Linked DNA regions of Homo sapiens: region 1 is linked to region 2. The links come from fine-mapping of genetic effects on gene expression. Tissue or cell type: testis. Region 2 holds a variant in brackets; the other region holds the start of a gene. All regions are shown on one strand. Distances are between the middles of the regions.

The links. PIP is the estimated chance that this variant, and not a neighbour inherited with it, causes the effect.
Region 1: it holds the start of PDHA2, and the variant in region 2 is fine-mapped to the expression of PDHA2 in testis (GTEx, PIP 0.98).

The regions. Positions count from the first base shown.
Region 1 is chr4:95,834,401-95,845,777 of GRCh38, reverse strand. It overlaps PDHA2 (pyruvate dehydrogenase E1 subunit alpha 2), which reads right to left and starts at 5,685. Exons shown (of 1, transcript NM_005390.5): 1 at 4,314-5,685. The coding sequence starts at 5,627. The coding sequence ends at 4,461. RefSeq lists enhancers at 5,167-5,666, 5,667-6,168, 7,024-7,626.
Region 2 is chr4:95,887,129-95,898,505 of GRCh38, reverse strand. No RefSeq gene overlaps it. Among named protein-coding and RNA genes, the nearest start is that of PDHA2, 53 kb to the right of the region's middle. The variant A/G (reference allele first, on the strand shown) is at 4,915.

The sequences.
Region 1 (11,377 bases), 53 kb after region 2:
CTGCCTTACTTCCTATATCCTGTGTCTGTTTTCCTCCCAATCTTGGTCTATGTGTTTCTACTCTAGGCCTGCAATCTAGACTCAGTTCATAGTAATTGATAAAATCCCTTAGTTCTAGTTTAATTGTATTCATTCATTTATTAATGAACCTTTTTAGAACAGATTTTGTGGTTGGTTATTACTGTACAAAGCAGTACAAAAAAGTAATTTTCAAAATATGGATTTTGTTGCCTGGCTTTTAATCCTGCATCCTCCATTTGTAAACTGCAAAATCTTAAGCAACTTACTTGTGCCTCAATTTCCTCTTTCGTAAAATGTAGATTATAATGCCTATATTATGTGGATATTGTAAACATCAAGTGGGACAATGTATACAAAATACTAAGCATAGTGTCTTGTACACAAAAGCAGTCTAGTAAAATAGAATAGTGGCTATGATTAGTAGCTGATATGGTTTGGCTGTGTCCCCACCCAAATCTCATCTTCAGTAGTAGTTCCCATAATCCCCATATGTCATGGGATGGACCTGGTGGAAAGTAATTGAATCATGGGGGTGGCTTCCCCCATGCTATTCTCATGATAGTAAGTAAGTTCTCAGGAGATCTGATGGTTTTATAAGGGGCTTCCCCCTTCACTCTGCTCCCATTCTTTTTCTTGCCACCTTGTGAAGAAGGATGTGTTTGCTTCCCCTTCCGCCATGATTGTTAAGTTTCCCAAGGCCTCCTCAGCCATGCTGAACTCTGAGTCAACTAAACTTTCCTTTATAAATTACCCAGTCTCGGGTATGTCCTTATAGCAGCATGAGAATGGACTGATAACAATAGCTATCACTATCACTTACTATGTGAACCTGAATTAGCCACTTAATATCTCTGGACCTCCTCTTTTATATATAGCTTCTTATTCTGTATAATTAAAAAAACTGGATTGTTTTTTCTTATGGTTTATTACAGTGAAAGGATACAAATTAAAATTAGGAAAGGAAAAAGACACATGAAGAGAAGTTCAAGAGAAAGCAGGCAGAAGTTTCCAGGTATATCTTCTCAATGGAGTAAAAGAGGGACACATCATTAAGATAAGCTAATCTGGTCATATTGGCATAGTATGGCCCAAGGCCTGAGGCTCACAAAAACATTCATATCAGGTAGAATATTCCAAGGTGTTCAGAGATTATCTCCCAGGAGTGTGAAAAGAGGTCTTTCCTTAAATGTGCAGGCTTTGAGTAACTCAAGCCTGCTGAATTTACTCTTTCCTTGCCACAAACTAATATAAAATGTTAATAAAAGGGAAATTGGGTGCAGGGCATGTGGTACATCTGCATACTGTTCTCAAATTTTATGCAAATCTAAAATTGTAATTCTAAATCCAACTGGAGCAATAGATTATGTAAGTTGATAAATATCAGGCTTAAAGTATTTTAACACTTTTCTTCATCATTATTTGTTTATAATCAAAAGGGATTGCATCGTAAGGGATATTGTTTGCATTAGCCAATACATTGAAAATTGTTATTGTCTTTGTGATTGAATTTTTTCTCAGCAACACTTTATTCATAATAGTCAAAAAGTAGAAAAAAAATTCTAAATCTTCAATAACTTGTGGATAAATAAAATGGAAATGTTATTCAGCCATAAAAAGACTAAAGTACTGATACATGCTACAGCATGGACGAAACATGAAAACATTAAGCTAAGGGATAGCAGCCAGTCATATAGGACCAACATATTGTGTGGCTTATATGAAATGTCCAGAATAGGCAAATCTAGAGACAAAAAGTAGATTAGTAGTTGCCAGGGGAAATAGGATTGACTGAAAATGGGAATTATAAAAATATTCTAGAATTAGACAGTGGTGATTGCATAGTCTTGTGTATGTACTAAAATCATTGACTTGTGCACTTTTAGAAGGGTGAAACTTTAAAAATTATTTCTGTATATTGCATATGTAAAAATTATATTTCAATTATAAAATTATGTTTCAATTTTTAAAACATAGCTCTTACAAAATTTCAAGTTAAATTTTTGTAACCATATGCTCTGGTTTTTGTACACTAGATGGGAAGACATGTCCATTTTTTTTTTAAAAAATGTAATTCTAATCTAGTATACCCTTTATAAATCTTTAAGCTCCTTTCTTTCTTATTCCATTCCACACACACTACATGATATTTTATCATTATAACATATCATAAAGATTAAGAAATTAGGAACTCTTCCTTTTCGCAGATAGTCTAGCTTTGCTGCAGCAGTGAAATTCTTATTATGACTATCATAACTTAGTAGGTATTTTAACGTGAGGATAAAACAGATTGAGTAACCCAGTACTATAGACAAGAAATAGAATCCAATTGCTAGATTTCTACACCTCTCTTGTTTACAGCTTGATAAATTATTGCTATCATTAGTCAAGCAATAAATCTTGACCTAATTGAAAACAACATGTTTGAATTTTTCGGTTGCTTTTTTTTGTTTTGCATGATTACAGAATTGTGCGTAACCAGTGATATGATTATAATTACTCAATGTATGCAAGAAATCTGAACATTGTTTAATATAGAAAACATTGAAAACCTCCTTCTTTAATGGAATTTGATAACATATATTGTGTTGTGACAAACATGCTTTATTCCTCTAACAACAAAATTTGGATTATTTCCCTGAAGTGAAGTACAATATCTATGTATCTTGATTTAGGGATGGTTTCATTTCTAATCAATTATTTGTATCTTAATTTTTGCTGTCATCAAAAGAATCTATTGAAAAACTTTAAAAATTATTTCTGTATATTGCATATGTAAAATAGCCTTAATTGAGCAGCTTATCTTCCACTTGCAAATATGTGAAAATATCAGTATGTAAAAATAAAAAGAATTCTTTATCATTAGAAGGATGTACTTATTATTCTGAATGTCGTATGAAAAATCCTTTTTTGTTTTTAATTGTAGGAATCCAGTCCAAGCACCTCTGAACAACTGCGGTGTTCTAATCAAAACATGTTAGCTAGTAATATCACTTACATATAAGCAAAACAATGTTTATCTTTGCTTTCCGAATTCGGAATGTTAGGTTATCTTACCTGTTTAAACTTGTTTGGGAGAAGATACGGAGATTAAGCCTGTATATATATGTACATATGTTCATCTTCTCCCAGGCCTCTGAGCTTTTGGTTTTCTTATTTCTTAGAATCTAGGTTCTATTTGTAGAAGTAGATGCTGTACAGTAAAGAAAAAGGGTTAACCTTTGACTGTTTTGGTATGTTCCACCTACTATTCTTAAATCACAGGCAAATTATCATCTCTGCTCTCAGAAAAATAACATACACCAAACACCAAGCTCAGCAGGATTTTAAGTAGTCGAATATAACCATGTAAAACTGCTTTCACCAAATCATGACTTGATAATTGACATGGTGCTGGACTGCAGAAAAGACATGTTGTGTGTTCCTTTGGAAAAAGTTATCTGTGAATGTTCTGTTGCATTAAAAGATACTAAATAGTTGATCATGTAGTGATTAGTAACGCATGGTTAACAGCTAGTAAGAAGCAAGGTAGATTTTACTTTCAACTTTTTATTAATGTCACCTCCTCTGCTTAACTCTTTGAATCACCATCTCTGTTTATTCATTTTTCAGTCTGAAATTCACCAGAATGGCCCATTAAATTTTAGAATATATAAGGGCATAAATGAACTGCAAAATAAGAGTAGCTTTAACTTAAAGATTAAAGCGGAATGCAGTTTTTCCCCTAGATTTTAATTTTTGCTATATTTTTCCTTAAGGGTTAAAAGACTAAAAATATTGTAACAAGATACAATAATATGAAAAAAAAAAATCCTTGTTCTTCCTCCCCTGCCCTGTTAAATATCATATATTATTGGAAAAACGGTCAGTGTTAACAAACTTCAGCACCACGTGTGTGGGTGTGCGCATGCGCACACTGTTACACTAAACTGTATTCGTTATTAGGTAATTCAAGTAAATGGTTACATATCCATAGGTGTCCTGAGTAGCTTGAAATAATCTCCTTACCTCAGGATGGTGATTCTACATAGAAACCCATGGCAGGGGAAGCAGGAAACAACTTTCTTTTAAAGAAGAGAATGCATTAAAATAGTATAAAGCTAAATCAAATGGAACTGTTATGACAAACAGTTTGGGAAGTTAAATAATCTCCTTTTCCTATTTTAGACTTGTATAAGTTCAAAATAATCTTTAAGATATTCACACTAAATTGTTACCTATATAGTATCTTTTAATGCAAAAATATACAGTATAATTGAATATAATATCACTTTTATTGAATGCATGTCTTTCAATCTCTTTTAATAATCTCTTTTAATAAATGCTTACAAGGCTTTTGTTTTATGAGTTTTATTCCTCCTTGAGTTGAGAACACAGTTTCTTAAATTTGACCATGAACATTCCATTGAGAGACTGATGATAAATTCACACGTAGCCTCCCTTTAACTGACGGACTTAAACTTGATCCATGGATTTGCACCACGAACTTCAAAAGATGAATCACTGCTGTAGATGTGATGGCCTAATTCTTCCAAATGTGGCTCAGGATCAGTGGTAGCAAACTGGGCAGCATCATCAATTTCTTTCCTCACCTCAGCCCCAATTTCCTTTAATTCTTCCACAGTGGCGAGCTTGCTGTTTACCATTCTATCTTGGAGAATTATTATAGGATCCCTCTTACTTCTTACTTCCTGAATTTCTTCTCGTGTACGATAACTGACTCCAGGATCACTCATACTGTGTCCATGATAACGGTAGGTTTGCAGCTCCATCAGTATGGGCCCCTTTCCAGATCTACAGTAGTTAGCTGCAAATTTTGTTGCCTCACGAACACACAGAACATCCATTCCATCGACCTTTAGCCCAGGGATAAAATTGCCCCTCTTGTAGTAATCAGGGCTGGCTGCTGCTCTCTCAGTAGATGTTCCCATTCCATATAGGTTATTCTCACAGATGAAAACACAAGGTAATTTCCATAAAGCTGCCATATTGAAAGCTTCGGCTATCTGCCCCTGATTCGCAGCGCCATCCCCATATAAAGTCAAACAGATCTCATCGTTTCCTTTATATTTACAGGCCAGAGCAATGCCAGCGCCCAGGGGGCCCTGTGCACCGACGATGCCATTGCCCCCATAGAAGTTCTTGGTATACATATGCATCGATCCTCCTTTTCCTTTAGCACAACCTCCTCTTCTTCCCGTCAGCTCTGCGAGAATGGATCGGACAGAAAGTCCCCGAGTATAGCACACACCATGAGCCCTATAGGATGTAATGACGTGATCCGAGGGGTTTATGCCGGCCTCAAGGCCCACGCAACAAGCTTCCTGACCATCGCACAGGTGACAGAAACCGCGAATGAATTTCTGTTTGTACAGCTGATCTGCCTTCAATTCCATGCGGCGAACAGTCAGCATCATCCTGTAGTATTTAAGCCCCTCCGCCCTAGTGAGCACTGTAGTGACAGGGGGACCCTCTTCCAACAGATAAAGATCACATTTCTTAATTTCAAATGTAGCGTCATTTGAGGAGTTACGGGATGCCACCAGCACTCTGCGAGCTGATTTCTGGGCAACTCGCCTCAACACGCGGGAGATGAAGGCGGCCAGCATATTCTTCACGGAGTGCTGTAGATGGCAGCGGCGTCCCGTAACGACCGCCGGAAGGCCTGGCCTCGGCTCCGCGTCTCCTTCCGGTGCTCCAATGCGCTTGGCACCATCCGGGCAGTGCACACGGGTGATAGAGGCAGGTCCTGCACAGCACTGGGACATGGGCCACGCAGCCTGAGCTGACTGATTTGTACAGTGCCTGCCAGCTGTAAAATGAAGACTAAAAGTGATTTCCTTTTCTGGAGGACTTGGGCAAACTACAGGGCATCCTAATCGCCGTCATTGCTGAACCTCAATAATCTGAGTCCCTTTTCCCTGTTAAACCCTGGAGCACTGTATCTCAAGCTTTCCCGACAAGCGTATCAAATAGAAGAAAGGAACAAACTCAGTCCCTAAGGCACATGAGAGTTCTGAGAGTTAGTCCAAAGGTATTTCTTCCTACCAATATTTCTTTAATGTCTTGTTTTTGATCTTTAAAATAGGTATGAATATTTATCCTGCTCCATAATGTGCCATATGTATTTTAAGGTAACAACAAAGCTGTAAATTATTTGTAGCTTAATTAACTTTAAAAACAAAACAAGCACACGCACGTTAACAAAAACCCCTTTTAAAGAAAAGTCAGTACTCTCAAATAATATGCCACATTTATCCTGATGGCGTCTAGCACCTGTGACACTTGAAGTGGGGAGGGAAAATGTATACAAACCTCGGCCTGAGGATAACACTTTAAACCCAGTAATAAACTTTGCTTGGTGTGGGAAAATTGGAAGCAGGGAGAGAGGGTTGAGGTGCAGATTGTGGTAAAAAGTTTGTAGTTTGTGACATTCCACTTTTCCTTACTCTGTTTAATAATTCTGAATCTCTGTTTTTACCTAGTTTTATCCCTATTTTCTGACTACTTCACTTTTGCTCTTCCTTTTGTTTATTTCCTCTTTTTTTTCTTTTTGGTTTTCTATAAAAATGTCTTCAGCAGGTTTCCATAGACTTTCAGGTGGTATTTATTTATTTATTTATTTATTTTGCTTTCATATCAATCAAACTGGACCAGCCTTAGTCCAGGAAATCTAGAAACATGTTCTTATAGTGCCTTTTTATGTAGTAACCATTAGAAAGTGTTACTTCTTATAAAGTGACCCACCAAACAATACACAGTTTGGACTACAAGAGAGCAACAGAGTTTGCTTATGCCACTGGAAACCGTTCAATCACAAGAGAAGAGAAGCCTTAGACCAAGGGATACAAAGATCACATATCATTTCTCTCTTTTTGTGCTTTTACCAGGAAGGCGATTTTGTGCCCCAATAAGCCAACCCTAACTAGGGATCCTGTTTTATTTAGAATATTAAGCCATTCACCTTAATGCATGCTCTGTTTTATATCCATTGCCTATTTGCAAATGATAAATTCTTACCCAAATGTCCCTATTACATGTTCAAAGCAGCTGCCTTCTCTATATCTAGTTGCAGGTGTTATTTTGGGCACTTCTTTTAATATTCAGGAAGAAAAGAGAAAATAGCTTGTTAAAAAGTTAAGATACCTCTTAAAACTTGATCGTCTCCCCACCTTCTGAACCCAGCCATCATAATAGGCCTCATCTTTTCACTCAATTGAAAATTCAACTGTTGGAATTCATGGTCTTGCTGTGTTGTTTGCTCCCTCTTTGATAGTTAGCCTGTCTCTGCTGTTCTCTTTCATTCCTCCAGGTATTGGAGATCTCCAGGGAGCATTATCTCCATAAGAATGAGAAAAATGACACTGCAGGATAGAACAGTAGTGTTAATGGGTCAGTGAGTGACAGCTGAGCCTTCTCTCAGAGGTATCAGCCAGGCCAGTGCTGCCAGGAACACAAGAGCTGTACAGTAAAGTGTGCCAATTTAATCTTGTCACACGTAGCCTGGACTGCAAAGATAGAGCTCCCCTTAAAAGCCCAGTGTGTCAAGCCTAAACCCGACTCATGCCAGAAGAGAACATACAAAGATGCTAATTGGAAAATATCTGTACTACGGGTTCCCACAGAAGATGTCCTTTAAAAAAAAAAATTTCTCAACAGGATCTAGTTAAGATAATAAATAATAAAATGTGAAACTCCCATAGACCTCTTGGTCATCAGTTACCCTATATATCCTAAATTCAACTTAAAAATAGACATCTGAAATCAAACAATGTTGAAGCATTTCAATTAAACTGATTAATCTTGATAATGACTTTTTGACTTTTATTGCTATCCTTCCAAATCCATCTACATTTTTCAAAGAAAGAATGAAATTTCCAGACATCAGGGTAAAATGTTTATCCTGAGCTGTTGAGCTTCTCCTCTTACATGCCCCCCAGCTAGATAGGATTCAAGCTATTCACGGACAATAGAGCCAATGATGGTGTTCTTTTCTTCAAATGATTTATTTTTTGTCCTGTCCTTGTTCAATACTATGTTGATTACCAAACAGAACTAAGAAGTCATCTACGTACTCACCACAGAAATGTTATTTGCAATTAGAAACCCCATAAATTCTAAGTTTTTAATTAACACCAAATCTCACTTTTAATCTACTTGAAATTAAAGGAAAACAGATGAGCACTCTTATAAGGCCAATGGCAGACTTTACATTTAATTAATAAAAACCCCTATAAAAGAAGAGCCAGTGATTATAGTAGCAGTCATTCATGCCAGTGTGACAGCATTTCACATTTCATGTCTGATGGTTGATCCTACAGGGGTATTTCTGAATTTATCTTAAAAGTGTCACTCCCATGGCATCAATAACACATATTTTTTAAATAATAGACAAGGAAATGTGAAAAAGAACAGTGAGAATGTTTGAAGGATATTTACATTTCTTCAGTAATTATTGCACTTTTTCACCAAATGTTAGGTGAAGAAAGCTGTTAAAGAGTGAATATTTTCTAGATAAGCAATATCAGATCTCATTAGATGATTAGTGGCAGTGTATTTTTTTCATAGCTCTAAGATTTGGCAATTAAGAGTGATGAGTAAGAACTTAGTGCAAAAATTACAAGTTATATATATATAACTCTGAGAAGAATTTCTCTGTTGGAGAAAAGACACAATGTCAGTACCATATATTTTGAAAAATGATGACAATCAAGCAAAGTTTCTCTCTAATATTACAATAAGCAAAGCTATTCCAGAACACTTCAGAGGCTTGGGCAAACAATATTTTTTCTTGTATGATCTTACTATATTTGAAATATGATTAAAATAAAAATCCAGGATAGATTAATTCAAAGAGAAGACTTAATTAGAAATGAGAGGTAAAGTAGAAGTGCTTCTCATCCTACCCAGATAATGATGGTGTGAGAAAAAGGAAGACATTGTGGGTTAATTTTTAGTGTAACAGATGGACCACCATCTTTCTCCTGATAGATGACCGGAGTCATCTGAGTCATCATGCTCCTAGTGCTAAATCCACTATTTCAAGAGTTTGGGATGAGGGTCTAACATATATGATAAAAGAGATCATGAAGCAAAATTGTAAAATAAAACTTTGCGAACATTTTAATAACTTCTCTATAATTAGAGCTGTAATTGAATATGGCCAAGTGACATAAGAAGTAAAATTTTATGTATAAAATCTGTTGTCAAGATTTACTACAGTCTGGTGTCTCAACCAGTAGAGGACTAGAACATGAGTCAAGAGTTTTGAACTGATTCCTGCTCAATATTTTGAGTTGCTTTGTAAAACCACAATCCCCATTCAAAGGAAAAATCATTAATTCAATAAACATTCCTGACAAATCACAGCAGTTTCAAGAAAGTCCAAGTCAGAGTTAAATCTATTTGCCTGTTCTCCTAAAATCTTTACACTTCTTGGGCAAATCTTGTACTTAGCAGATTTTAATTCTCACATACTTAAAACCCCATGTCTCAAATTTTTATTCTGCAAATAAACATACATTTACCCCTAGTAACCTTGATTTTATTATACTAGCAATAAAGTATACACAAAATATGCTAGTAAAAATGAATGCTATATATTCAATATTGCAATGAGGGCTTCTCTCCTCTGTGCAGTCGTTTTAATATATTAGTTTCCTCTTAACTGTACCATGTTATTACGTTTTCTTTATATATGCCCTCCCACAACCCTTCTAATGACTTTTGGTGGAATATTAACTGTTTCTAATATCAGTATGCCCATGTAATAACAAAATTACCACGACTATTTCCTTTGACTTTGCCTCTTTGAAGAAGACCTAAGTCACTGACGGATGTTTAAAGAGAGAGGAAGGAATATTGGCAAAAATCCAGGGCACTGCTGCCCCCTAGAAGGAAGTTTGAGCAGCACATTTGACAAACACAAATCTTGAGAGAAACAGACTTTGAGGAAGATTGCTAATCATGCACCCCACTTTAAGAACCTACTGTTGACCACATCTTCAGTTTTCTTTGCCCTGTCTTACATCTAAGCTAGGGCACAGTGTTATCTATTACATCGTAAACTTAGACCTGTATAGATTCTGTCCAAATAGATTCATAGGAGATACCTGTGAATATGTACAGACATATAAGCACATTTTTCTTGGCAAATAATTTTTTTTAATAATGAGAATGAATTTTTCGATTATTACATGCATTAATTTGAGATATAAAACATCATAAATATTTCCCAGGTATGTGATAGAATAGACTTGCATCTCTTTCCTAGAGATACAAAGTTAAGGAAGTTTGTATCTCCAGGAAATACAGTTTGCTCATTTGACCCTCATATGGTTTAGTGTCTCATTCCCAATTTCTGGAAGAGGAAACTGAGGCCAAGGAATTAGGCAAATACAAAGCTAATTTAAAAAAGTAAAATATTTATTCTTCGTTTATTCATCATGTATGCATGAAGTGCCTTTCTTTTATATATCCCCTTTCTGTATTAAGTAGTAGAAGTACAATAATAACATACAATTAAATTTTCCTCTATTTAATCCAGTTTATATAGAGGTGTTGTGAGCTCTTCCAGATTTCCTGGCACTGCCTAGAGAAAAGGACAACTCATCATTGAAAGACAGAGGGAGAGACACATAAGCAGCTGTTATAGATGCAATAAAACTAATGTATTACATTCCAGGCAATGGTTAAAATGACAGTTTGTCTTTATTAGGATCAATGATGAACAAATTAAAAATAAAGTACTGTCAAACAGCAATATACAAAACAGAACACTCTAATTTTGTAAAGTTGTGTAGTCTCCTTTAATTTGGTTATACAGCAGAGCTGAAAAGGCACACTGGGAAATATGAAAATCAGGATCTCATAATTATACAATACATTATGAATATGAATGCAGTTTCTCCAAGCAACCTAAGACAATGCTATAGATGTTTTATGGAGCTTCTCATGCATGAGAATCTTTCTGTTCCCATGGACCCACTGTGCATTTAGATTCTAAGATATTTCCATATTACCCAACACTGAAAATCTAAAAGGCCATTATCGGGGAGCCTTAGAGACAATTTCAATTTAGAGGCCCAATGGTAAATGAAAATAGTGTCCAAGAAGAGCTTTTAAGCTTAAACATCTTAAGCACTCATCAAAACATAATCAGGCAACAAGATTATTGGGGTTCATTAGGAATTTAACAAGCTCTTGTCAGGGCTACCAGCTGGTCATGCTGCTTCCAATCTTCTGGACCCTGAATATCCCACTGAAATTTATGGTGTATTTCTCCAAAAGCTTTTAACTTTTCTATACTTTCATCTAGCTTTCTTCCCAGTTCATTTCATGGTAAAAATCACCTGTATTT
Region 2 (11,377 bases):
AGGAAAACAGCTGTAGAAGTTCTTGACTGAGACAGCTACATAAGTGATATGAAACATGAACTTCCTCATAGTAGTAGCAGGTCTAACCACAAAAGCTCTCAAAAATTGAAGTGCAGAATGAGAACACACTATTATTTAGTTGTGTTAGCAGAAGCCTTGTGATTCTAACTCTGGTTGGTTGGTTTTAATGTAACCAAGTACCCCCATTCTTTCTAGGAAAAAGGGAATGGGTTACTTTTTTTTTTTTTTTTTTTTTTTTTGAGACAGGGTCTTGCTCTGTTACCCAGGCTGGAGTGCAGTGGTGCGGTGGTGCAATCTTGGCTCACTGCTGCCTCTGCCTCCCAGGCTCAAATGATCCTCCCACCTCAGCCTTGTGAGCAGCTGGGACTACAAGCATATACCAACATGTCTGGGCTAATTTTTGTGTTTTTCTCTTAGTGGAGACAGGGTCTCACTATGTTGGCCAGGCTGGTCTTGAACTCCTTGGCTCAAGCAATCTGCCTGCCTCAGCCTCCCAAACTGCTGGGATTATAGGTGTGCACCATAGCATCTGGCTGAGTTACTATTATTATTTTTTAAAATTTTCTATTTTCTCCTTTCCCCTGTTCCCTGCCTCCTACTCAGCATTTTAGAAATGCAAATATAACCCTTTACCTCCCCTTCACCAGGCAATCCCTACAGGGCAACTATATTTAACCATGTGCTCTAAGATGGAACTCTCCTTGAGAGTTAATGGTCAAGTTACAGACCAAAGGATGCCCACCTCGGAACTCTCACCCTCCAGGGAGTAACCTTGGAACTCTCATCGCCAGGAAGCCATGTCAAAAGCATGCCCACTTGACTACTTTTACAACTTATTTCTGCCCATGGAGGTGCCAACTCAACTCCCTGGTACCAAGCTAGCATGCTGACCCACCACCTTTTCTTGCTTCCTTCCCTGCCTTATAAAAGTACCTGCTTCCTGCTCCAAAAGTGAAGCACTACATTTAAAGACAGGATGCTTGGGCCTCTTCCTCTAAGCTAGCTTCAGAATAAACCTCTTTACACCAGACCTTGATCTTGTTAATTGGACTCTGCATGCAGTGAGCAACTAACATGCTGCTCAGGTACACTGCTATGGTAAATATTTATTCCTGGCCAGGGAGAAAATGATGCCCTGATTCCAACTTGACTTTGAACACATGCTTTGCCTTAGAAGAGTGGGTAGAACCCTCTTCAAACCACATAGGTTAACAAAGGAAAGGAGTAGATTCTCTCCTCCCAATTTTTGAATGTTATTACTAGAAGCAGAATGACTACACACTGGATGTCCAGAAACATGTACACATTTATATACTCACGCAGATGTCCATGATAGTTCATTGAGTCAGGCTGGTGTTTAACCACAAGTTGTGTCCACTCAAGTAAGAAACAGTGATGTGGCTGAAGAGAAGTTGTTATATCCAGAGAAAGAATACCTAAGTACTTACTAGCTTCTAACCTAATTTGTCTAGATTTTGGTTGCTGATATGAGAAAATATCTCATCTCTCTAGAAAGTGCTCTTATTTGAGTTTATAAAAGAATTTTGCATATCTAAGGTCCAAAATTCTATAAATTTGAGTATTTGCACTTAGATTTACTGTAACAGCATTCTCCCAGATATGTTAAAAATAAATTACTGTGTTTACTATTTCAAACACTGTGTAAAACATTTTATTTGAAAAATCTTATTTTTAGAAAAACCTCATAAGAGTGTATTTATGAGGATATTTTATTTTTTAAAAATACTGCCTCAAACTGGCATAAACAATAAAGGAATTCATTATCTTAAAGAATAGGATGTATGAAGGTAGATTGTCTTCCAGTGGGCTATGAGTAGGACTCCAGCGATTTCCTTAATTCGCCTGTCTGATTCAGCTTCATCTTTAAGTTACCTACCCTCATGGGTGCAAAATAATTGCCTTCAAACATAAAGACCATATCCTTCTGTTTATTTCTAAAGGAGAGACAACTTTCCCTCTTCCCCAGCTATGAAAAATTTCCTTTTATTTTGAGTCAGATAACTTAGGTCATGTGTACACCATAAAGATCAAGAGTTTAAAGTGTCCCTGGGAGAATGCCTACTGCTGATTAGATAAAGCATAACATGAGTTTCTAAGTCAATCTCTGGATTAGACATATCAGGACCCACTCCGGCAGATGGAGATAGTCACCTTCCTTTGAGTCATTTGGTCTGACTGGGGGATATGGTGGATGCCTGAACAAAATTAGCAAGAGGGTCCTAAATGCTATGGTGCCCATGCTGTTTGTCATCAAAACTGGGATACTTTTGAAAGTGACAAATGCTAAAGCATACAGAATGCCATTATAGCAGACATGAACTGAACTTAATTATCCAATGGTTTCTACTGAGTTGAACATCAACATTTTCTACTATAGAAAGCATAATCATAGCTGGTTTAGCAATTAAGACACAATGCCTCTAATGTTCAGATGCTATACATACTCAAAATTAATAAATAGGAATTGGGGATTAAAATTCTCACAAGTATTTTCTATTCATTTCTAGTTTATCTAGTAGACCACAAAGCAGTATATTCACCTGATATTTGCAGGACTGTAGTACTTTTTATGTTTCTCACATGGATATTTTATTTTCATTTTCTGTCTTCTATGTTAATACTACTATGCCAATAAGCATAGTTATTTCTACTATCTAGTAACTTAATCCATATAGTGATGCTTTCTATTCTACAGGAGAAATGCAGTTCAATGAGAAATTAACAAAACAAGCCAAACTCAAAGTTGCTGGCATTATAAACAGCAGTGCTATGATGGGTACCAGCCTGACTTAGCTTTGCCCTTATTGGCACACTGGCCCCACATAAGTGGGTCAAATATGAACTGACAAGGTGTTATACTCTCCAAAATGTCATGCATACCAAGTGTTAACAAAGTGTTTGACTTAGAAAGCCAATTAGGAGTGAAATCATACCTCTTCCTTTAACTATTTGCAGAGACTGGGTCAGTCACATCTTTTCTCCTATGGGATATAAGAAATTATTTTCAGATCCAAAGTAGACATTTCTAATTTAGTAACCTGAACTTCTTCCTTCATGGATGTTAGCAAATCAGATTTTTAGTTGTCTTTGACATAATTACTGTCAAATTTATGCCTATGGAAAGCTATTTCCTACGAGACACAAATAGCAAAATCCCTATAGTGGAGAGAGATTTCTAAACATTTCAGTACATTTCCAATTCTGCCCTGAGTCTGAAAACCGTTATTTGAAAACACTTTAGAGTATAACAAGTATTTCTCCAAATACTCTGAATGTCTGTTAGGTCAGCTCTTTTTGACAAGCCATTGAAAACACAACAAATGTGGATGCCCCTTCCCATTGCAGCACATATGATGGATTGTAAATGAATATAGCAAAGATGGCACCTCCCCCTTGAAACTAAATACACCCCAAAGCCATATAAGTGGGATGAAATAAGTCTCTATTTTCAAACCGTCTGCCACAGTTAGTACTGCTACTAATCAGTGTCACTACTACAATTATCTCTAAAGCTTTATCTAGAATAATATGAATTTTGGAGAGACTTCTTTGTAGCCAGGAGCACAAAATTTATGTGCTCGAAGAGAGAGAGAGGGAGACAAAGAGAAAAGGGGAAGAGCACAGAGAAAGACAGGAAGAAAGGATACACAAAAGAATAGATGTTGATAAGTGAAAGCCCTACTGCTCACCACACTGCTCAGAGTCACCACAATCTTTCACCTGGATTACTATATCAGCTTCTAACAGGTTTCTGTCTGGACTCACCCTTGGTCCTCCTGACCATGATACCAGTTATAAGTGAGAATCAGACCACAACTCTGAATTTCTGAAATCCCATTTGTATTAGTCCATTCTTACACTGCTATAAAGAACTGACCGAGACTGGATAATTTATGAAGGAAAGACATTTAATTGACTCACAGTTCCACAGGTCTAGAGAGGCCTCAGGATACTTAACAATCATGGCGGAAAGGAAAACAAACACGTCCTTCATCACATGGTGGCAGGAGAGAGAAATGAGTGCCCAGCCAAGGGGGAAGCCCCTTATGAAACTTACTACCAGGAGAAAAGGATGGAGGAAATCGCCCTATGATTCAATTATTTCCACCTTGTCCCTTCCATGACACTGGGGATTATGGGAACTACAAGTTGAGATTTGGGTGGGGATACAGCCAAGCCATATCACCACTGATGCTCCCCGCATTAAACACACACTCCAATGTTGAAGTCAAGTGACTGAAATGAGGCCCTGGCCTACCTCTTTCATTTTGTCCCCTCAAGCCGTGTCCTCACTTGCTATGCTCCATATGCCTTGGTCTTTCTTCGCCCTTCGCTTATGCTGGGTACATTTGCATCCCAGGTCTTTTGCATTTGCTGATTGTTCTTTCCTTTTTCTTCTTCCAATGCTTATTCTCTAAATCTTCATGATCTTTATACTGCCCTCCTTCTCATATCCAGGTTTCAGCTTAAACGTTCGTCATTCAGAGATACCATCAGACCAAACTATAAAATAAGTCAACCAACCCATAAAAGACAGTCAACATCTCCCATGTTAATTTCCACAATACAACCCTGTTTTATCTTCTTTGTAGTACTTCTCAGTTTCTGAAATTATCTTAGTTATGCTTGTAAATTATTTTCTACTCACTAAAATGTAATCATCTTTGCTGTAAGAACCTGTTCACTGGTATACCCCAATTCCTATAATATTACCTGGTACATAAGCTTTTGTAAAATACTTCTTGACTATTGACTGACCATTTCTCAATTCCAACTGGTAATAATTATACTTAGTATTTCAGAATATACTTTACTACTTATTTTAGACATTTACATGCTTACAGATGGGCTTGTGATTTTGCATTCAATAAT[A/G]CAGAATTTTGTCACTTTATTTAACCAGTACATGATCTGGGTATGTACTGTATATCATATAACCATTTTCTTATTGATGAACATTAAAGTAGCTTCCAATGTTTTCTATTATAAAGAATTTATGTTGCAAATAATATCGAGAAACTATTTTGTTTCAGTCGCTATTCTAAGTTTTGGGGGCAATCAGTAAACAAAAACACCTACCTACATGGAGCTTATATTCTCCTTAAAGGAAACATAACCATTAAGCTTCATAAATATGTAAATTATACAGTATGTAAAAAGCTACCAAGTGCCATGGAAAAAATAAGGTAAAATAAGGTAAAAGGAGAGTGGAATCCCACAATTAAAATTTTGTTTACCTATTTTGTCCCTAGATTAATTCCTGTTTACACTAAAAATAGTAATAAGTGGGGGAGTCTTCAGATTTCTTAAATATTCCTGGAGAGATGAATACAAAACTTTGGAATTGTTGTTAGCAAATCTGTTTTGTTTTTATTTTTATTCTGTTTTTAGAATTTTCTTTTCCTTGGATTTATAATATTTTATTAGTCTATTTAAGATATTTGCCTTTTCTTGTATTTCTGCTGGTCTCTCAATCTGAAACAATTTTGTTTAGTTGTTTTTCCAGCTCAGAGATTTTTTTCTCTCTATTATTTTATATTATATTCCTTCTGTATGTATTTTCCAAGTAGACAACTGTTGAAAATCTTAGACAAATGTTGGAACTCCTGGCTCTATTCTTCATCTTTCCATGTTTTTCATCATTTTGTTCTTTTAGTTCATGTTCTGGAAGAAATGCTCAGTTCCATCTTCTAAGTTAGTTGTTTAATCTTCTGTCATGTATCCCCCACTCCCTGCTATTTTACCTATCTATTGAGAAATTGTTCTTCATGCAGCTGCTTTTAACTTTCAAAAGGAAGTTGTTTCTTATCAAAAGTGTTTGGTTGTGTTTTAGTTTGTTTTCTTCAGTTGAATTATTCTAAAGAAATTTTGTACAAATATTTCATGTGTTTAAAATTTTACTTTTCCTTTTTACTGTTTAGTTACTTTCCCTTGGATGTTAATTTTGTCTGTGTTTTGATTTCAATTCACCTTGAATTTGTTGAATTTTCTCAAATGTTTGATTTTATGTGATTTCTTTATAACTGGAAATGGGAAACAGGATTGAAGAGCTTTGATAGAGTATATTTTTTCACCTTAATAATGTATTTTCTCAGCCCAGCATATAATCTTTATTTCTGAGCAGTGAATACTAATTATAAAAAGCTCTTTATTCATCAGGACAGATGTAGAATTGACCCATAACCAGGAGAAAGCTCTGTCAGTAGAAACATATCCAGAAATGACAGAGATGGTGAAACTATCAATAACAAACTAAGATGTTAAACTATTATAAATACATTCAATATGCTCATGGATGAAAGGGAAAATATAACAAGAAAAGAAATTTGAGATAAAAAATAAATGCCAGATGGAACTTGTAATGATGAAAAATAAATGAATGTATTATGGATAGAATTAACTGCAACTTAGATCCCGCAGGGAAAAAATTAGACAATTTAAATATAGGGCAGAAAATCATTTAAAGTGACTCACACAGGGAACAAAGATTGAAAAGAAATGGATAAATAATCAATAATTTGAAGTGGTCTAACACACACAGAATGGTAGCTCCAGTGGAAAATACAAAAAGAGAGGTAGACTTAAAAAAATAATGGTCAGGATTTTTGGTCATTTAAGGAAAGCTCTAAAGGGATCTAAGAAACTCAAGGAACTCTAAGCTAGATAAACACATAGAAAACCACACCAAGCTAAATTTTAACTGAATGTGCTGATACCAGTAATAAAGAATTTTAAAGGCAACAAGAGATTAAAATAACATTATGCACAGAAAGAACCAAGATATGAATGACTCCATAACAGAAGACAATGGAGTGATATCTTTAGAGTGCTAACAAATAATCAACTAGCATTCTATACCCAGCAATAATAGCTTTCAAAAGTCAAAGAAAAATGTAGACATTTTAGACAAAAATCAGAGAATTTCTCACCACCAGATCTGTACTATGAAAAGTGTTAAAGGGAGTGCTTCAACAGAAAGAAAAAAAAAACGTTAAAAAATTGAATCTATGCAAATGAGCAAAGAATGCTGAGAAGAAGGATACAACATGCATGTTGTTCAGGATTGACAACACAGAAAGAAAACCCAAGTTCAATATTCCTAGAACTGGAGAATCAGTCTTTCTGGGACCCTTGCCACTATTTTGGAAAAATTTGAGTCACTTAGTTCCTGTATGGCACTGGGAAACTCACTTAACTTTCTGTGCCTCAGTTTTTCTATCTATAAAAATGGGGATAAGGATTAAACCTCCTGTATAGTTATTTCATAACATATGCTAATCACTTAGTAAATGTTAGATTTAAAAAAAAAAAAAAAGTGAAGAACCCTTGGCAGCTTATCAAAAATATTAAATTCAGTCTTGGTATAAAATCAGTCAGGCTAACCTCAGATTTTCCAAATAATACATTGAATACTAAAAAGTATTAGAGCAATGTCTTTAAAATCCTTAAAGAAAATCTGACTTAATGATTGTATTTCCAGCCATTCAAGTATAAAGACAAGAATAAATTGTTGTGGCCATGCAATTCAGTTCCCATGAGTCTTCTTGAAGAAACTATCTCCTAAGGAACAAACTTCTGCCGACTAAGAGATGAATGGTTAAAAACTAGCAGAAAGGAAATATTTGACAATTAACATAAATGTAAGGAATATAGTTAATACTATGATTAAAAATAGTGATGATGGGCTTGGTGCAGTGGCTTATGCCTATAATCCCAGTGGAGGCCAGGGCAGGAGGATCACTTGAGGCCAGGAGTTTGAGACCAGCCTGGGCAACTTAGCAAAGCCCTTATCTCTACAAAATTATTTTTAAAAATGGGCAGGCATGGTGGTATGTGCCTGTAGTCCCAGCTATTCTGGAGACTGAGGCAGGAGGATCGCTTGAGACCAGGAGGTCAAGGCTGCAGTGAGCTATCATCACATCACTGCAGGCCAGCTTAGGCAACAGAGTGAGACATTGTCTTTTTCTTTCTCTCTCTCTCTCTCTCAACCTCTATCTGTCTATCTATCTACCTATCTATCTATCTAATGTAGCATTTGTATAACTAGCAAAATTTGAGAGCTCAAAGATTATAATAATTTTTGTGGTAATGTAGTTATGCCAAACTCCTCCTCTTTAACAAGCCAGATATAAGATATGTAAAGCTGATACATCAAACAATAAGAGTGAGTGTGTGTGTGTGTGTGTGTGCGTGCATATACACACACACACACACAAATAAAATTAATACAATCTCATGAAATCGAAGAATGAATAGAAAAGGACAAACATTTTGAATCAGAATTTGCTCATTGTAGGGAAACAAATTATTAAGACAGAGAAATTTAAATGCATCATACTTGCCCATACTACCTCTGCCACCACCAACAGGCCATAGTTCCTCATGCAGCTAAAGCCCCCGTACCCTGTTCAGTTACCCTTTATTGTTAGAAATAGTTGTATAACATATAAAAAAACCAAACAGTCAAAGGATAGCAATTGAAGGGTTTGTGGAGCTGGAATTCAGGAGCAGCTCAGTTGGACAATACTGGCTTGTGGTTTCTTGTGAGGCTGTAGTCAGATGTCATCTGCAACTCCAGTCATCTTTAGGCCTGACTAGGGTGTGAGGATCGCTCTCCAAGGTAGTTCAGCCATATGGCTGGCGAGCTGGTACTGACAAGGAGGTTTCTCTCCATGTTAAACTCTCTCCATGAGACTGCTTGTGTGTCCTTATAACTGGTAGCTGGCTTCCCCATGTTACTACTCCAGAAGTCCAGACATAATGTACTTCTCACCTGGTTTAAGAGGTCAGAAACTGTCTCTGATGCTGCATTCTACTGAATACAAAAGCCAACCCTATTTCAATGCTGCAGAGACTATATAGGGCTTTTAAAATATTGTGATGTGAAGGGTATTGGGACTTCCTTTGAAAGAGTAGAAGAAAGAAACGTCTCATGAAGTCTGTTCAAAACTAGTATATAAACAATTCTATTGAATTCAGTTGGCCAAACCAGGTCATAAGGCCAGCCCAGATTTAAGTTGTAGGGAAATGGACTCCACGTTTTAATGGCAGCACCGCCAAAACCACACTGCAAGAGATGTGGATACCATTGAGGGAATAGTTGTGCCCATTTTTGCCAAAACTCTACCACAATATTTTATATAAACTAAAATTAAACAAGATAAACACATATGATAGCTCAGCTGATAAAGATCTTGTAAGAAGTAAGAGAGAAGGAAAATCTCATTTATATAACTGTCCTAGGTTTCTCTGGTGTGACTTTGGTTGTGCTCTGTAATTTATTTCCATTCTTCAGTCAAAAAGTTTCACAATAAATTGATGTTTTCACTCTCTTCTCACAATGCTGCAGTAATTCCCAATTTGCCTCTAATGTGCAATTAAGTTCCTGATCATAGGTTTTAAGATCTTTTACTAATTTGAAAATTGACGGTTCATCACTTCCCAGTGGCCACATAATTGACATATTTTCATTTTAGTGCTTTGAAAGTCACAGAAAAAGAAAACACATTAGGCATCAATCCAATATGAATGCCAATCATCCTCCCTGATGTATAATAAAACTAGGGCCTTCACTGTTAATATCTTCTACCAATTAGTGTAAACATACATATACTTCCAATCTCTATATACATCTACATTTTTTTCCTATAAATTTAGGAATTTGTCATTTATATTTTCACTTTATATTTTTTCTTCCATTTGATTTCTGACAATTTGAGAAATGTGACTGTTTTTCAAAATGGACTTTGAATAAAAATCTCCCAATAAATGTAGATGGATTTAGGATTAAGCTACATCTCTTATAATTGAGACGACAATATTGAAGTATTAGAAAAATGGGCAAACTGCTAAAAAATATGACTACCATTGGGTTTATCACTCTGTCTTCACTCAATAGGACTATCACTTGTGATAACTCTGTATTTAAATGAACTGGGATGACTTTGTAATTTGGAGAAGTTTCACAAGAGAAAATTAAATAATTTAAAACTATTTTCATATTTGGTAGGCAGGCTAAGATTTTTTTTCCACCAGAATCTTCTTGAGTGATAAATGTGTACAACTGGAAAAAAAACTTTGATCATTTGATCCAGGATTGAAAAACTTTCTCTGAAAGGTACACATAATAAATATTTAGGCTTACAGGTCATAGGGTCTGTGATGCAAATATTCAACTCTGGTGTTGCAGTATGAAAGTAGTTATACACATACATACATGAAGGAACATGGCTATGTTGCAATAAAACACTATTTACCAAAATTGGTCCAAGAGCATTAGCGCACCAGTTGATTTAGTCCAGTGTGCTAATTTTTCAAATGAGGAAATGACTGATAGAATATTAAAATGATTGTCTAATGTCACACAGTAGTTTTAAAAGAATTAGAAAAAGAATTCAGGTCTTTTGAACTCCTACCCAGTACAATTGTCAAAATGAATGCTAAAATTTGTGGATTGAAAAAATATGGTGTCTGTATATAAGTGTAATAGTGTGTCAGCAGCAGCAGCAGCAGTAGAAATAGTAATGGTAGATAGCATCTAGCAAAAGCAGATCTTCGGAGAATAATATAAAAGTAGCATACTATGCAATCTGAAAAGCATTGCCCTTGAGTGGCAGCCCTTTTGGAGGGATGCGATAACTTGTCTCCTGAGATTAACATAGATACTAACTTTTTAACGTTAGCTTAATTGGTATTATTTTGGGAAGTACTAATTTGTTCTGCACACTAAACTGAGAGAGCAAATGGCTCCTTAAGGGCCTCCATGTCTGCCAATAGACTAATTCTAAGCAATTGGAAAAGCAAATTAGATTTTCTCAGAAAATGTATGGAATAAAATTCTTTTAGTACTAGATACCATAAGGAAAAAAAGGACAAAATCTGCTTGACAGAGTAAATACATCAGAGTCAATGATGAAGAGATTCTGGACCAAATACTTACTGTGGTAAATTGGGAAAAAGAGTGGTAGTGATAATGATTCAAAATTGGCAATATATAACGTGATTCTTCCAGAGTCCTATGATTCGACCAAATTTTGATCCTGAGCAATTTGTTTCAGTTGCTCAGTGAATGTGTTTATGCACAGAAGCATTTATTAGTAGTAGTTTCTACTTTTCATAGTTTGCTAGTAGAAACCATGCCATATAAATGAAAGTGATTTACCATGAAAAAGTTATAATTAGCTATTGCCTTCCTAACCAATGTTTTGGCATCAAATAAATCATATATATATATACCCAACAATGTCATAAAACCAAAGTTATTAGAATTATATAAGTCTGAATAATTTTCCCCACTAAAATTATGCCAGCAAATATTGTAAAATGAACACAGGTTCAA